Regions from separate parts of the Homo sapiens genome. Here all the other regions are reported to be linked to region 1. The links are microRNA targets in miRTarBase. Many come from high-throughput screens and were not tested one by one. Region 1 holds a microRNA gene; each other region holds the end of a gene's coding sequence.
Evidence for each region. Region 1 holds the annotated microRNA hsa-miR-548ap-5p (AAAAGUAAUUGCGGUCUUU, at 1,258-1,276, shown strand). A microRNA usually pairs through its seed, bases 2 to 8, with sites in the 3' UTR of a target mRNA and lowers its output. Matches are read on the target gene's strand: a 7mer-m8 pairs with bases 2 to 8, a 7mer-A1 pairs with bases 2 to 7 and ends in A, and an 8mer does both.

Region 2: the mRNA of KLHL11 is a reported target of hsa-miR-548ap-5p. Seed matches in the 3' UTR shown: 7mer-m8 at 3,281-3,287.
Region 3: miRTarBase lists ANKEF1 as a target of hsa-miR-548ap-5p. Seed matches in the 3' UTR shown: 7mer-m8 at 1,263-1,269 and 8mer at 3,133-3,140.
Region 4: miRTarBase lists PLET1 as a target of hsa-miR-548ap-5p. Seed matches in the 3' UTR shown: 7mer-m8 at 739-745 and 7mer-A1 at 981-987.

Annotation. Positions count from the first base shown.
Region 1 is chr22:26,552,553-26,556,552 of GRCh38, reverse strand. It overlaps MIR548J (microRNA 548j), which reads left to right and starts at 1,230; the gene lies at 1,230-1,341. All of the region lies in intron 1 of TPST2 (tyrosylprotein sulfotransferase 2), which reads left to right. RefSeq lists an enhancer at 1-766.
Region 2 is chr17:41,850,089-41,854,206 of GRCh38, forward strand. It overlaps KLHL11 (kelch like family member 11), which reads right to left. Exons shown (of 2, transcript NM_018143.3): 2 at 1-4,118. The coding sequence ends at 3,652. Among named protein-coding and RNA genes, the nearest start is that of KLHL11, 13 kb to the right of the region's middle.
Region 3 is chr20:10,055,132-10,059,249 of GRCh38, forward strand. It overlaps ANKEF1 (ankyrin repeat and EF-hand domain containing 1), which reads left to right. Exons shown (of 11, transcript NM_022096.6): 11 at 371-3,172. The coding sequence ends at 529. The region is part of intron 3 of SNAP25-AS1 (SNAP25 antisense RNA 1); the gene reads right to left. Among named protein-coding and RNA genes, the nearest start is that of ANKEF1, 22 kb to the left of the region's middle.
Region 4 is chr11:112,245,042-112,249,159 of GRCh38, reverse strand. It overlaps PLET1 (placenta expressed transcript 1), which reads left to right. Exons shown (of 4, transcript NM_001145024.1): 4 at 186-1,007. The coding sequence ends at 361. Among named protein-coding and RNA genes, the nearest start is that of PLET1, 14 kb to the left of the region's middle.

The sequences.
Region 1 (4,000 bases):
CACTTTTTTTTTGAGATGGAGTTTCGCTCTTGTCGCCCAGGCTAGGGTGCAATGACGCGATCTCGGCTCACTGCAACCTCTGCCTCCCAGATTCAAGTGATTCACCTGCTTCAGCCTCCCAAGTAGCTGGGATTACAGGTGGCTGCCACCACGCCTGGCTAATTTTTTTGTATTTTAGTAGAGACGGGGTTTCACCATGTTGGCCAGGCTGGTCTTGAACTCCTGACCTCAGGTGATCCGCCCACCTCGGCCTCCCAAGGTGCTGGGATTATAGACATGAGCCACTGCTCCTGGCCCATATTTTTATATCACATTTTAGGTGCCACAGATGTGTCTGCTTGCAGATGACAGTGATTATTCTGTCTGCTACTAGATCTTGTTATTGATTGCTTTAATAAAGGAGCAGATAGGTTACAGATAATATTTCACAGCAATTTTTGTAATCACATTCTTAGCCAAAGTTTACTATGTTGGTTTCCTTTTCATCCTGTATATTTTATTGTATTCCATTTAAAAGCATTATTCTGGGAAGGGGCCCATAGATTTCACCAGATGGTTGAAGAGATCCATGGCACAAAATGGTGGAAGAACCCATTAGACCTGGGTTTGAGTCCTCATGCTGCCCTGCACCTGCTGTGTGAGTGTGAGCAGAGTGTGAGCAGCCCATTCCGCCTCTGGATTTCTTATTCATGATCCAGCCAGAGAGGGGCTGTCTCCCCCACAGGGTTGCCGTGGGAGGCCTGCAGTGGGAGTCGATGCCACTTTGTTGTGGTGCCTGTCTGTTGGGTGTTATTAGGTCTTCTGGGCAGGACGTGACACTGGGTGCTCCAGCGTGCCCTGAACGTGTTCCCACCGCCTCCTGCACACCCCAGTCTGTCTGGGCATCCATCCCACTGGGTTGATTGTCTGCCGGCTCAATGGCCGTGACACTCATTATGGGCAGGACTGTGTCCGTCCTAATAAATAATGGTACAGAATTGTAGCTGATGCCTCTGAGCTCACACTCTTTGCCAGCTTCACAACAGCTCCACAAGGTAGGTGCCGTTTTCAGACTTATTTTGGAAATGTTAAACGTTATAACAGGTGAGTGAGGCTCAGAGACAAGAAGTCACTGGCTCAAGGCCACTGGTGAGTGGCCACACCAAGATCGCCTGGGTCTGTCCAACTTTAGGTCTACACTCCTGACCCCTGCACTCCACGATGATTGCATTCCTGAGCCTGGCCCAGGTGGGCAGCCAGTGAATAGTTAGCTGGTGCAAAAGTAATTGCGGTCTTTGGTATTACTTTCAGTGGCAAAAACTGCATTACTTTTGCACCAGCCTACTAGAACGCTGAGTTCAGTGCCTTAAGCGGTGTTTCACAGAGAGGGAGCAAGGGGCAGCGCTTGTTAAAATGCAAATTCCCTCAGCTCCACGTTAAAATGCAAATTCCCTCAGCTCCACCTTGCCTCTTCCAAATCAGAATATTTGAGGGCAGGCCCCAGGAAATCTGCCTTTTAAAGTTTTGGGCTATTCAGAAGCACACCAAAGTTTAACCACTACCCTAAAGGGAAGGAATAACAGTCAGGTAGTAACAAAGCTCTGTTCTGAGTGCTTTATGTGAGTTTATTTATTGTGAGACAGAGTCTTGCTGTGTCACCCAGGCTGGAGTGCAGTGGCGCCATCTTGGCTCACTGCAACCTCCTCCTCCTGGGTTCAAGCAATTCTTGTGCTTCAGCCTCCCAAGTAGCTGGGATTACAGGCATTCACCACCACGCCTGGCTAATTTCTGTATTTTTGGCAGAGACGGGGTTTCACCATGTTGGCCATGCTGGTCTTGAACTCCTGACCCCAGGTGATCCGCCCACCTTGGCCTCCCAAAGTGCTGGGATTACAGGCATGAGCCACTGCAAGTTTATTTATTTAGTCTTCACAAGTGTTAATGGCCTCCCCATTTCACAGATGAGGAAAGTGAGGCACAAAGTAGTTAGATAACACCTCCCCACTGACCCCCAACCCAGGGCTGCATTGCTAGGAATCAGCCAGGTGTGGAGGATTCCTGCCCCTATGCTCAGTCCCCTACCTCTGACAGCTTCTGGACAGAGGAGTAGAGACGGGATCCCATGGTGGGTGGGGGTGAGGGCTCAGGAAGCACTGGTCCCTACAAGATCACGCTGGCCCTTTCCTGTTTGCCTTGTTTACCAGGCAGGGGCCCTCTGTGTTTCTGGGCAGGAAGTCCTGAGCAGGGGCTGTGCCAGGTGTCAGGGGCAAGACTGGGAGATGGTCCAGGAGTCTGAGCCGGGCACTACTCTGAGCAGCTGTCTGACCTGGGGCACATAGCTTCCCCATCTGTGTATGGGGTGGGGTCGAGATTTGGAAGAGGTAGTTAAGAGCTTGGGTTCCGGCATCAGATAGACCTGAGTTCCAGATCAAACTCAGCCACTTATCATCTGTGTGATCTCCAACAAAGCACTTCACCTCTCTAAGCCTCAGTTTCCCCTTCTGTAAAACGTGGCTAATAATAATAGTGCCTACCCTCCAAGCCTGTCATGAGGGTCAAAATATATTGTTGGCTGTCCGTCTTCTTGGGTTCTGCATGCGGGGATTCAGCCGACAGTGGATCAAAAATATTCGGGAAAAAATGGGTGGTTGCATCTGTACTGAACATGAACAGAGCTTTTTTGTCCTGTGATTGTTCTCTAAACAATACAGTGTAACAACTACCTACATAGCATTTAGATTGTATTAGGTAGTATAATTGATCTAGCACTGATTTAAAGTATATGGGAGGATACGTGTAGGTTTTATGCAAATATTACATCATTTTATATAAGGGACTTGATGTATACTGGTATTCGAGGGATATTCTGTAATCAGTCCCTTATGATACCGAGGGGCGACTGTATATAAAACTGCCAGCCAGGTGCAGTAGCTCATGCCTATAATCCTAGCACTTTGGGAGGCTGAGGTGGGAGGATTAAACTCAGACTGGCCTGGGCAACATAGTGAGACCCCGTCTCCACAAAAATAAAAAATTAACTGGGCATGGTGGCACTTGCCTGTAGTCCCAGCTACTTGGCAGGCTGGGGCAGACAGATCATTTGAGACCAGGAGTTTCAAGGCTGCAGTGAACAGTGATCACTCCACTGCACTCCAGCCTTTGAGACAGAAGGAGACCCTGTCTCTTTAAAAAAAAAAAAAAAAACTGCCAGGCATGCACAAGCCTCTCTGCTAGTCCTTACGTGGCAACAGACAGGATGCTGGATGATTCCCTATGCATGAGTGTGCACTTCTTTTTCTTTTCAATCAACTATTTGTTTTCCCGAATTGTACATTTTTCTCTTACCAAAGGCTGGCCACCTGGGTCCTCCCACAGTCCCTACTGAGAAAAGTCCCAGAACCAAAACTGGCTTCCACCTCGGCTCACTGTATTTGTGCTTTGTGAGTTTGCCCAGGTTGCACTGAGGGCAGGTGCTGCTGATAGTGTCTTTTTTTTTTTTTTTTTTTTTTTTTTGAGATGGAGTTTCGCTGTTGTCACCCAGGCTGGAGTACAATGGCACAATCTCAGCTCACTGCAACCTCCGCCTCCCGGGTTCAAGCAGTTCTCCTGCCTCAGGCTCTCGAGTAGCTGGGACTACAGGCGCCCGCCACCATGCGCGGCTAATTTTTGTATTTTTAGTAGAGATGGGGTATCACCATGTTGGCCAGGCTGGTCTCGAACTCCTGACCTCAGGTGATCCTCCTGCCTTGGCCTCCCAAAGTGCTGGGATTATAGGCGTGAACCACTGCTCCTGGCTGATAGTGTCTTTTCGTGATATAGACCAGGGGGTTGGCAAACTATGCCCACGGGACAAATCTAGCTGACCGCCTGTTTTCGTAACTAGTCTTATGGAAACGCAGCCACTTGCCTTCATGTATGTGTCATCTTGGTTGTTTGCATTACAGTTGCAAACTCGCAGTGGAGCTCTTGTGGCCCACAGAGCCAAAAACATGGGTTTTATGACTTCACAGAAGCTTGCCTA
Region 2 (4,118 bases), not on the chromosome of region 1:
CCTTGTACTTAGAACCTTTCCAAATACTCTGGGAAGTTATTTCCAGTTTAGAATTTCAGAATGTCAGCCTTGAACAGATTTAAGCAAATCTGGTTTCTTTCCTTATTAACAAGTTAGTTAGGATATTTCAGAAACACAAGTTATTGATGTGAAATTACACATGTGAATTCAAAAATAAAAATTAGAAAATCAGGAAAACCTGCACACATCATCATGCAATGAAGGACTTACCCCTTCTTTTCAGCCATGGCCTAGGCTGCCTGCTAAGTTAAAAAACAACAGTTTCAATCAAGGTTTTAAAACCAGATTATGCCTAAATCTTATGAGTTATAATTTCTGTCACATGATGTGAAAAAAACACAACCCCACAAATGACTTGGTAATAATTATCTCAGAAGACAACTCTGAGAACAAAAAACAAAAAACACATCACACCCTTCCAGTTAAAAACTATTATCGTAGTGAGATACTAAATTATTTAAATACAATCAAGAAAACGAAGTTTGCTAGCACAGTCTGTTGGAGAGAAATGAGAACTTCATTTAGTGAGCTTCATTTAATGATTCTGTCTTACTTGCATAGACCTATCACAGCTAAGAATTAGTGCTTCTCAGAATCCAAATGGCTTTTACTAAAATAACTACAAAGAAATAGAAATTGAGAAAAAGGTAGTGGTGGGATGGGACAATATAATAATATATCCTTATATGTAGAAATAGACTTGCAGTTTCTCACGCCCACTCCAGTCTAAATTAAATGGATTTAAAGTTGATTTTCAACACATTTATTAAAAACTTTTCACCTAGGCAGGGATACTAATTTAAAAATTTCAAGTTCTTAGTATAGAGCCCAAGACCTACAACTTGCAGCAAATAGCCAAAATTTCTGGTTGTGCTTTTCTCTTTTGGTATTTGATCACTAACAAGAAGATTAACTATAATGGACTAGGGAAAAAAAAAATCACTGCACTTGGAATTTGACTTCTAGAATGGTATGACAAAATGTCTAAGAAGGTAAAGACAGTTCTTAAGAAACAGGATAAATCATTGGACAGGTGGCTCTTTGGGAGGCCAAGGTGGGAGGATTGCTTGAGGAAAGGAGCTTGAGACCAGCCTGGCCAATAAGGTGAGACCTCACATCTTAAAAAACCAAAACAACAACAAAAACAAGAAAACCACATTGTAAACTGTTAGGAATCCTTTATATTAACTGAGCATTAAGAGTAAATTTGAGGGCTGGGCATGGTGGCTCATGCCTGTAATCCCAGCGCTTTGAGAGGCTGAGGTGGGCGGATCACGAGGTCAGGAGTTCGAGACCAGCCTAACCAACATGGTGAAACCCCATCTCTATTAAAAATACAAAAATTAGCCGGGCGTGGTGGTACACACCTGCAATCCCAGCTACTCAGCAGGCTGAGGCAGGAGAATCACATGAACCCGGGAGGTGGAGGTTGCAGTGAGCTGAGACTGCGCAACTGCACTCCAGCCAGGGCGACAAAGCGTGACTGTTTCAAAAAAAAAAAAAAAAGTTATTTTGAGGCCGGGCGTGGTGGCTCACACCTAATCCTAGCACCCTGGGAGGCTGATACGGGTGGATCTCCTGAGCCCAGGAGTTGGAGACCAGCCTCGGCAACATGGAGAAACCCCATCTCTACCAAAAATACAAAAAAAAAATTAGCTGGGCGTGGTGGCGCGTGCCCATAGTCCCAGCTACTCCGTATGCTGAGGTGGCAGGATGGCTTGCATCCAGGAGGTGGAGGTTGTAGTGAGCCGAGATCATACCACTGTACTCCAACCTGGGTGACAAAGTGGGACCCCATCCCCTGGCCCAAAAAAAAAAAAAAGTCAATTTGAGTGCTAACTTTTATAAAGCTCAGGAGACATAAGATAATTCGAATAACGTATAAAACTAAATAAAAGATAGCTTCAGTGATCTTTTTAATTTTTATTTGAGACACCGTCTCTCTGTCACCCAAGGTAGAGTGGCATGATCACAGCTCATTTCAGCCTCAACCTTCCCAGGCTCTGGTGATCCTCCCACCTTGGCTTCAAGTAGGAAGGACTACAGGCACGTGCCAGCTACCACACTCAGCTAATTTTTCTACTTTTTGTAGAGACAGGATCTTGCTATGTTTCCCAGGCTGGTCTTGAACTCTTGGGCTCAAAATCTGCCCACCTCAGCCTCCTCCAAAGTGTTGGGATTACAGTCATGAGCCACCGTGCCCAGCCCATAAACCTTTAAAAGCCAAAATTATGTACCCAAATTTGGTATCCTAGGCTCAGGCAAAGTTTGAAAGTGTGGGGCAACTGGATAAAATATAACAATCAGAAATAATAAGGCTTCTCTTTAGCAACATTTCTCTAAATTGTGACTTCCTTCCCATTTTGGAAAAAAACAGTTTCTTGTAGAAAAGAATAATGGACTGGGCACGGTGGCTCATGCCTGTAATCCCAGCACTTTGGGAGGCTGAGGCGGGCGTATCACCTGAGGTCAGGAGTTCAAGACCAGCCTGGTCAACATGGTGAAACCCTGTCTCTACTAAAAGCACAAAAATTAGCCAGGCGTGATGGTGGGTACCTGTAATCCCAGCTACTCGGGATGCTGAGGCAAGAGAATCACTCGAACCTGGCAGGCAGAGGTTGCAGTGAGCCGAGATTGCACCACTGCACTCCAGCCTGGGCAACATGAGCAAAAAAAAAAAAAAAAAGAGAAAAGGAATAATGAAGATTCTATATAATATGCATTAGAGCAAAAATTAAAATGGAAGGCATTGAGTGTCGATTGTCATAGGCATTATTTACACTCATTAACATATCCTCAAATAATCCTGCAACTCCTGAAAAAAATGTTGAAAAAATTTTAAATGCCTTTGATTTCCCAGTCTACACTAATACTTTTCTTCTTAGAGAAACAAAGTTCACACATGTAACTTGCTCTGTATTTAGTCAATTAGCTAAAGATCTATACTTTTGCCAACTACCGTCACCTCAGATTGAAGGCTTAAAGTCTATAAACAGCTGCTAATGAAAAATATTCAAAAAATGCATGAGCCAGTAAAAAATTTCTCATCAGTCACATCTTCTAGGAAGGAAACTGGCATTTCTAGATAAACATAAGAAAATATCAATGCAAACATTCTCAAATTATCTTGCTGAAATATTGAGTGTTTTCATTCAAATTTCAGTCTCACTATTGCACATGCCTCCTGCAGATGAGGGCTCAATGCAGAAGTCAGATCTTGCCAAAACCAATCATTTAATAAAAAATGAAAAAGAATATCAAAGTAAATGTGCAAATAAAATTGGTGCTTAAAGCATGTTCAAAACGTAAGTCCTCAAGACAAAGGAGTCATAACTCGTTGGCAGGAAAACAGCTAAGCAACTACACCTGATTTTTCCACTTGTCCTTAATAAGATCTTATTTAGCTAGCACAAACAAACAAACCAAAGACAAAAATTGCAAGCTAACAAAATGACCATGTATTGAACTGAGTCTCCCATTCTTTAGTTTTTAACTCTATTTCCTTTATATGGGGTAATAATCAGTTCATGTAGAAAATAAGTTATCGACATACTTTTTTAAATAACAGCCTGGGTATCTTCAGCTTCACGAAACGGGTGTAACAGTTTTAATCGGCACGCTTGAGAGAACCTAGCATTCAATCTGAGAGCTTGGCACTCGCCTCATGTTCAGGGCGTGACGATGTATCTCTTGCATCTGTCTGATGCGGTCCTTCTGCCACATCAGGTTTTGAGGCATAGGGTATCTCTGTGTGCCATGCAAGTACCGGTATGGGATCCTCACGTGACAAGCAGTGGCTCTACAACGAGGTTGTGGCATAGGAGGAAGAAGCATCCACCTCTTCCTCTCCGCACAATATCGGTAGGCTTCTTTCCGATACTGTTTATCAATATCATCACTGTTTTTCCAGCCTCCTATAATGAAGACATCATCTTTGTAATAGCAAATGGCTGCTCCTTCGATGCTTAGGACTTCTGGAGGCAAGCTTTCAAGGATCTCATCAGACACTTGGCTGGCAATTTTTCTTACTGCCTCTTCGTTTTCTAAACAATAACTCTTGGGACAACATGATGCTGTCTGATAAAAGTTTGAATTGA
Region 3 (4,118 bases), not on the chromosome of region 1:
TCTACATAAGACATATAGGTAGTAAACCTAGATGATCTTCTAATTCCTTTGCTTCCCTGTTTTGGCATCCTAAAAAACGCACAGCAGCTGGTCTGAGCATAACTGGCCAGAGAAGTAACTGAATAATATTTCCGACATTATTTGTCTAGACAGTCATCATCAAAAACAGTGATGCTCGTGCAACCACTAGTGTCATATGAGAGGGGGGGAAGAAGTTAAAACACATCTAAAAGTAAATTTAATAGTTTTAAGTTAAAACTATAAACAAATTTTTAAGTTAAAACTGTGTATTGAAAATTGTCTGGATATTAGCATATTTACTGGCTGTCATACTCATACCTGCTGGGGTATGGCTATTTTTCTTTTTAAGATTTGGAGTCCTGAAGCCACAACAGCAGAGCTGATCAGGAAGAGGGAACTACGGCGAGAGAGGTTTACACATGAGGTGGACTTCGACGATTTTATGATGCCTTTTCAGAAGAACATCACAGAGAAAGCTCGAGCACTGGAAGCTGCCTTGAAGACCTAAGTCATAGCAGTTATTTCTTGGGGTAAATGCTTTGAGGCCCAGGGACCAATCTTTGGAGAAAGTAGATATTTCCATCAAAGCCAAAGCAATCCATACACCAAGAACTTGTTACCAAGAATTTCTTTTTGCTTTAACAACTATAAATATTCTTAGCTGTCTAGAGAAAAGATGTATGTTATTTTGAAATGAATGGTATGTCATTCTGGATAAATCCCCAAGCCCCTTTATGAATGTAGTGAAATACATGGCATGTGGGTTATAAACGTTGCTGTCAAAAGATTTACCAGGTCTACACCATTATGCTTATTATTTTTTTAATTATCCTTTTTATTTATTAAATAGAGACAGAGTCTCACTATATTGCCCCAGCTGGTCTCGAACTCTTGAGCTCAGGCAGTCCTCCCAACTTGGCCGTCGAAAGTGCTGGGATTATAGGCATGAGCTACTGTGCCCAGCCTGCTTATTGAAGATACATTTCTAGTGGAAATTGATGAAACAATTTAGGTTTTGGAAAAAGAAGTAATATTTAATCTTTTAAGGAAGGAGTTTATTTCTCACATGCCATTATAAACTATGTGTATTAGATACCTTGGGTTGAATACACTTTTAACAGCCCTAGATCGATAGCCCTAGCCCTAGATAGATAGCCCTAGCCCTAGATAGATAGCTATTAGGTTGGTGCAAAAGTAATTGTGGTTTTTGCCATAACCTTTAATTGCAGCAAAAACCGCAATTACTTTTGCTCCAACCTGACAGCTAGGTATCTAGCTAGCTAGAAAGGCAGATAGACAGATATATAGATGATAGATAGATAGATGATAGATAGATAGATAGATGATAGATAGATAGATAGATAGATAGATAGATAGATAGATAGAGATTTATTGCAAATAATTGGTTTACATAATTTTGGGCCCCAGATGGTTAAGTGCTAAATTTGTAGGGTAGGCTATCAGGAAGTGCAGGCTGGAAACATGCAGGAGCTGTCCCTGAAGTCCACAAGTGGAATTTCTTCTTCATCATGGAAACCTCAGTTTTGTTCATACACCTAAATACTTCAGTATGTCTTTCCTAAAATAAAAGGCATCCATTTACCTAACCAGATTACGATTGTGAAAATTTCAACTGTTGTTAAAGCGACTGATGGGATCAGTTTCACCTAGATTATCTAAAGCAGTCTCCTTTACATAAAGTCAATGAATTGTAAATATTGGTTGCATGTACACAATTCCTTCACCACAACACCTAAGATTAGTATTTGATTGAGTTACTGGGTGCTACAACCTAGCCAAGTTGAGTCATAAAACTGACCATCTCTGGAGGTGTACTCTGCAGTAAAAAGCTAGCTGAGGCATTATTCACACCAAGAAATGCAGTGGGTACCGAACAGGAGCTCCAAAAATATCCAACGTCTCATTGACAGAAAGAAGCCACTTTAGAATCTGCCTTACCAGAAGGCACCAATTGCAGATTACAGCTCTGTCAGTCACGTATGGATTAAACCCCTTTCCTCTAACCTCCTCCCTCTCTTTCCAACCTTGGAGGGACCTTCCACAGGAGCCAGTTAGGGAGGAGAAGGGAAGAGAGAGAATGAAGCAGGTAACCAGGCCCACCCCTCTGGAGGAGACAGACCTGAACAGGGGTTGCTTACAAGCATTGCATTTGGATCCCAAGATTTGCTATTACAACTAAATTTTGTCTGTTTTGTAAGGTTTTGGTTGGTTTTTTTGTTCTCTCTTTTCTTTTTGTTTTGACATAATTTCATATTTATGGAAAAGTTGCAATAATTTGACAAAGAATTCTTATATGCCCTTTACCCAGATTACCTAAATGTTAACCACTTACCACATTTGCTCTATCTCTTTCTCCCTCTACATATATGCATATGTATGTTTAATTTTTGTCCCCGAACTATCTGTGTGTCCGTTGAAGACATGATGAAGACATGATGTTCTTCACATGATGTTTTCATATTTGTGTGTCAGTTGAAGACATGATGTTTTAAATATTTCATTGTGTATTTCCTAAAATCACGATGTTCTTTTGCATAACAATATTACCATTGGCAAACTAAGGAAATTAACACTTAAGTGAACTATTTAATCTATAGACCTTATTCAGATTTTGCTATTTATCCCAATAATTTCCTTTGTACTCCCAGGTCATGAAATACATTCGCTTGCCCCATCTCTTTAGTCTCTTTTAGTTTAGAACAACCTGTATTTCTTGTTTGTTTGTTTGTTTGTTTGTTTATGACAGTATATAAGAAGAACACAAGCCACTTTTATCTTGTAAAATGTCTCTCAACTTTGGTTTGTCTTAAATGTCTTCAAGAATAGATTCAGGTGATGCTTTTGGGGCAGCAGTGCTACAGATGTCATTGCACCCTTCTCAGTACATCATATCAGGAGGCACATGATGTTGATACCTGATATAAACTTTAACTGCATTTGCAGTTGAGAGAAATGTAAATAAAAGTAAAGCTGCAGTAATAAATCATAACTGCATAAAATTAACTGTAGTACATACTGTACAACTGTAATAATTTCATAGCCACCTCCTGTTGCTATTGTGTTGAGTTCAATTGTTGTCTTTTCTCAAGCTTACTTTATTGCACAAATACAGTATTTATAACATACAAAATACGTGTTAATTGATTATGCTATGGGTAAGGCTTTTGGTCAACAGTAAGTTATTAGTATCTAAGTTTTTTGGGAGGCAAAACTTATACATGGATTTTTTTATTGTAAGGAGAGTTGGTGCCGGTAACTCTCTAGTAGTTTTCCTTGTACTTAATGAATATCTGATAGATAGATACTTTGAAACTATGGAAATTTCCTTCTACTTTCATACTTTCACCTACTAATTTTAGCATCCATGGATGATTCTCGCCTAAAATAATTATTACAGTGACAGTTGCCATAAAATAATTTCTACATTTTATCATTCTTTCCATTTCTTACTTGGCCTTCTGCTGTTGGGCAGAGCTTTCTTTTCTTCCTTATTAATTTATGTACTCAAATCAGTACAGACTCATGCATTCCCTTTTTATTTAATGCGAATTATATATGTGTGGGGACCAACTCAGAACTCCAGAGTTGGTATAAAGATTATTTTAAGCCAAAGACATTTGAGATTTAACATACCATATGCAGGGGAAAAAAAAGTCTTCTCAGACCTTTGCTTATCTGACTACAAGCAGTAACTTCTAGGAAATAAGGCTGCCATAAATTCCTCTTCAGGTTTGATCTACTTCTAGAACACAAGTAATCCTACCCCAAATCCCTTCTCCAGAAGTGTTGTATGGCCCCGAAGGAAATTTAAGGACCATTTATACCTGTATAGATAAACATTATCACGTACTTTTTTATCTCCTGTTTGTTCACCTGAAAACTCATGTATCTTTGTAAAAAGTCATTGTGTTTACATAAATGTCTTCTCCCCCTCCCCTTTGCTTATCAAGATGATTATAAGCCACCGATTTTAACTATCCCTTTCAGTTACTCATCACTGAGTTCTCCCAAGTGTATATGCCTTGCATGCATAAACTTGTTTTCTCCTGTTAAAATGCCTTTTGTCAGTTTAATTC
Region 4 (4,118 bases), not on the chromosome of region 1:
AACCCCCAGCTTTTCCCCTCCTCTGAAAACACTTGGCACTGGAGAAGGGTTGATTGAATTTTGCTCATGAATCTGGCTCTAGCATTCCATCAGATTACCCTCCTTTCTCGAGTGCCCACCCACCACCCAACGGAGGTTCCGATGCCATTTTCCAGTGCCAACCGCACCCTCAACCACCTTTCCAGTGTCAACCTTAGCCTTAGCTGCCAAGATTCCCCAGAGCTCAGCCTTCAAGCCTTTCTTCATGATTACACCCAAGAGTATCAGACTCGAAGGCTTGGCCAACCAAGTCTTCAGCAGCCCCATCACAGAGGCCATTTATATCCTGCTTGCTTTTCTCACCAGCACACTTCTCTTCTAAAGGGAAGCCAGGGAAACAATTGTTTCTGCCTCCACTGCATCCTCCTACATTCAGTTCCAAGCTAGTGCTGGGAACCGAATGTGTGTAAATGAAGGCTTTACATTCTCAAATGTGCAACTTTGCTGCCACGGCTTCAGACCAAAACAAAGATCTGGAGGCACTCATTGGCAGGCTTGGGTCACATAGATGTTCATCTGGATCTTTCAGGACACATATTACACTTTTTGAAAATATTTAGAACTGGCCGGAACTTAGTCACCTAGGTTCTCCCTATTGGTTGAACAGGTTGGCAGCCAATTCCACAGCCAATCTCAACTTTTGTTCACTGCCAAATGATTCCCCTGCAACCTCTGAGTTTCTGTGGGAAGAATCCTTCCTTACTTTCAAGATGATCTCAGATTTCTAACCAAACCCATTCAGGTTACAAGGAACTTCTGTGACTCATGTGACTCAAGAAAGAAAGGAGAAAGGAGAAATAGCTCTGAGGCTGCTGGCAGCTTCCCATTTGTCCACACCAGTAGATTTTGAAGGGCAAGAGAACAGGAACGAACCATGTCTGAGAAGCCAATATAGAAAAAAACTATGTTATAAAAACATTTTTGTCACAACAAATAAATTATACTTTAAACAAGAATAATGAATGTGTTCCATTCAAATATAAGTCTCTAATGAGTAAGTTAAAACACAGAGAATGTTGTCTAATTGTATTATTTGTGTGTGGGTATTAAAGAACGAATCAAATGGTGAGTGTATGTGTGTTTTCAAGACCAGACTTTGGGGCAAAACTATCTCAATTTTCATTTCCCTCAAGTGAAAACTGGTCATTTTTCCCCTAATAGTAATTTCTGTTAAGAAATGGGCAAAATATATGTGTGTGTGTGTGTGTGTGTGTGTGTGTGTGTGTGTGTGTGTATATATACATATATATATACACACACACCTATATATACACACACATATATACACACGTATTTGTGTATATAGGCAGTGTTGTTATTCCCACAATGCCTCAGAGTCAGCCCTGCCCTTAACTGGCTGAAGGATGTGGGATAACAACACCTATATACACATATATTTGTGTATAGGGACCACTGCAACAGGGTCTTGCAGTGAAGGAGAGAGATTGGACTCAACACCCTATTTATAATATATATAACGCAATGTACAACCAGAAGGAAACATGGTATGTCCAGTAATAAGCTTGTAATAAGCAACAAAGTTTTCTTTTAATAATGATGCTAAATTCCAGGATGCCAACATTCTTTGCTGATCCCTAAAATTGTGCACCTCGTAAGAATTCCGACTCTATTCTTCCCTCCCCACTTAGGACACCTTGATGATATTTATCACTCCCTGGTGTTTGTAACTGAAATGTAATACGTGTCCTATGTAAATACACAATCTGCTTAGTCATATATGCTTGTTTAACTGCCAAAGAGATGGGTTGGCTACGATTCTTTTCAAGCATCCAAAAATACTCACCAGAAGGAACTAAACAACCAATTTTCCTAAGATTATCCATCTACTAATTTGGGGGCTCAGAGAAGTAGCATGCTCCTAATCTCTTCTAAGATGCTGACTCCTAGGTTGACTCCACACCAGCTCTGATTCAAGAACAACAGGTGGCTCCCCAAAAAGGCTGAGCAATTTTATAGGATGAGAAAAAGCCTACGAATGATCATTTACTAAGCATTTACCTTATGCTTCATTAATGTTGCTATGAAAGTACTATAAGATCCTAATTTTTGTATTCCAAAAGTTCCCGCTTTTGTTAACATTTCCACCCTCTCTCCTCAAAAATATATATAAAAGGAATTTTACCACAGTGTAATCCATAAAAACCACACCTTTCTGATCTAGGTAATGGCTATCCCACATTGCTTCAGGCTAATTTATCAATAAATACTTATTGAGCACCATGCTGCCTTTCTTTTGGATATGTACCTAGTGGTAGAATTGCTGGAGCACATGGTAGTTCTATTTTCAGTTTTTTGACAAACCTCCATACTGTTCTCCGTAGTGGCTATACTAATTCACATTCCCACCAACAGTGTATGAGGATTCCCCTTTCTCCACATCCTTTCCAGCATCTGTTAGTGCCTGTCTTTTTGATTCAAGCCATTTTAACTGGGGTGAGATGATATCACATTATGATATTGATTTGCATGTCTCTGATGATTAGTGATACTGAACATTTTTTCTTACACCTGTTGGCAATTCGTATGTCTCCTTTTGAGAAATGTCTGTTCAAATTTTTTGCCCATTACTAAATTGGATTTTTTTTTTACTATTGAGTTGTTTAAGCTCCTTATGTATTCTTATTATTGATCCCTTATCAGGTGAATAGTTTGCAAATATTTTCTCCCATTCTCCCATTCTGTGGATTGTCTATTCACTTTGTTGACTGTTTCCTTTGCTGTACAGAAACTTTTTAGCTTGATGTAATCCCAATTGTCTATTTTTGCTTTGGTTGCCTGTGCTTCTGAGGTCTTATACAAGAAATCTTTGCCCAGACCAACATCTCAAAGTATTTGCCCAATGCTTTCTCCTAGGAGTTTCACAGTTTCAGGTGTTAGGTTCAACTCTTTAATCCATTTTGATTTGATATTTTTGTATAGTGAGAGATGGGGGTCTAGTTTCATTCTTCTGCATAGTTATGCTGTTTTCTCAGCACCATTTTTTTTGAAAAGACTGGACTTTTCCCATTCTAAGTTTTTGGTGCTTTTGTCAAAGATGAGTTGGTTATAAATGCATGAATTTATAACTGGGTTCTCTATTCTGTTCCACTGGTCTATGTGTCTGCTTTTATGCCAGTACCACGCTGTTTTGGTTACTATGCTTTTGTAATAAGTTTTGAAGTCCGGTATTGTGATCCCTCCAGCTTTGTTTTTTGGTTTGGGGGTTTTTGTGTTTCAGGGTATGTTTGTGTGTGTGGTGTGTGTGTGTGTGTGAAGGGTCTCACTCTGTTTTGTGTGTGTGTGTGTGTGTGTGTGTGTGTGTGTGTGTGAAGGGTCTCACTCTGTTGCCCAGGCTGGAGTGCAGTGGTGCACTCATAGCTCACTGCAGGCTCGAACTCCTGGCCTCATGCAGTTCTCCCATTTTGGCCTCCCAAAGTGCTGAGATTACAGGTATAAGCCACTATGCCCAACCCAGCTTTGTTCTTTATGCTCAGGATTGCTTTGCCTATTCAGGGTCTTTTGTGGTTCTATATAAATGTTAGGTTTGTTTTTTTTTTTTCTCTTTTTGTGAAGAATGTCATCGGTATTTTGATAGGGATTGCATTGAATCTGTAAGTAGTTTGTAGTAGTATTGTCATTTTAACAATATTATTCTTCCAATCCATGAGCATGGAATATATTTCCACTTTTTGGTGTCCTCTTCTGTTTCTTTCATCAGAATTTTATTTCCTTGTACAGAACTTTTATTTCTTTGGTTAGATTGATTCCTAGGTATTTTATATTTTTTGCAGCTATTGTAAATGGGATTACTTTCTTGATTTTTCAGATTGTTCACTGTTGGCACATATAAATGCTACTGATTTTTGTATGTTGATTTTGTAACCTGCAACTTTACTGAATTTGTTTTATGTTCTATCAGTTTTTTGGTGGAGTTTTTAGGTCTTTCTAAGTAATAAGATCATGTCCTCTTCAAACAAGGTTAACTTGACTTCTTCCTTTACAATTTGGATGCCCTTTTATTCTTTCTTTGCCTAGTTGCTCTGACCAGGACTTCCAGTATCATGTTGAATAAAAGTGGT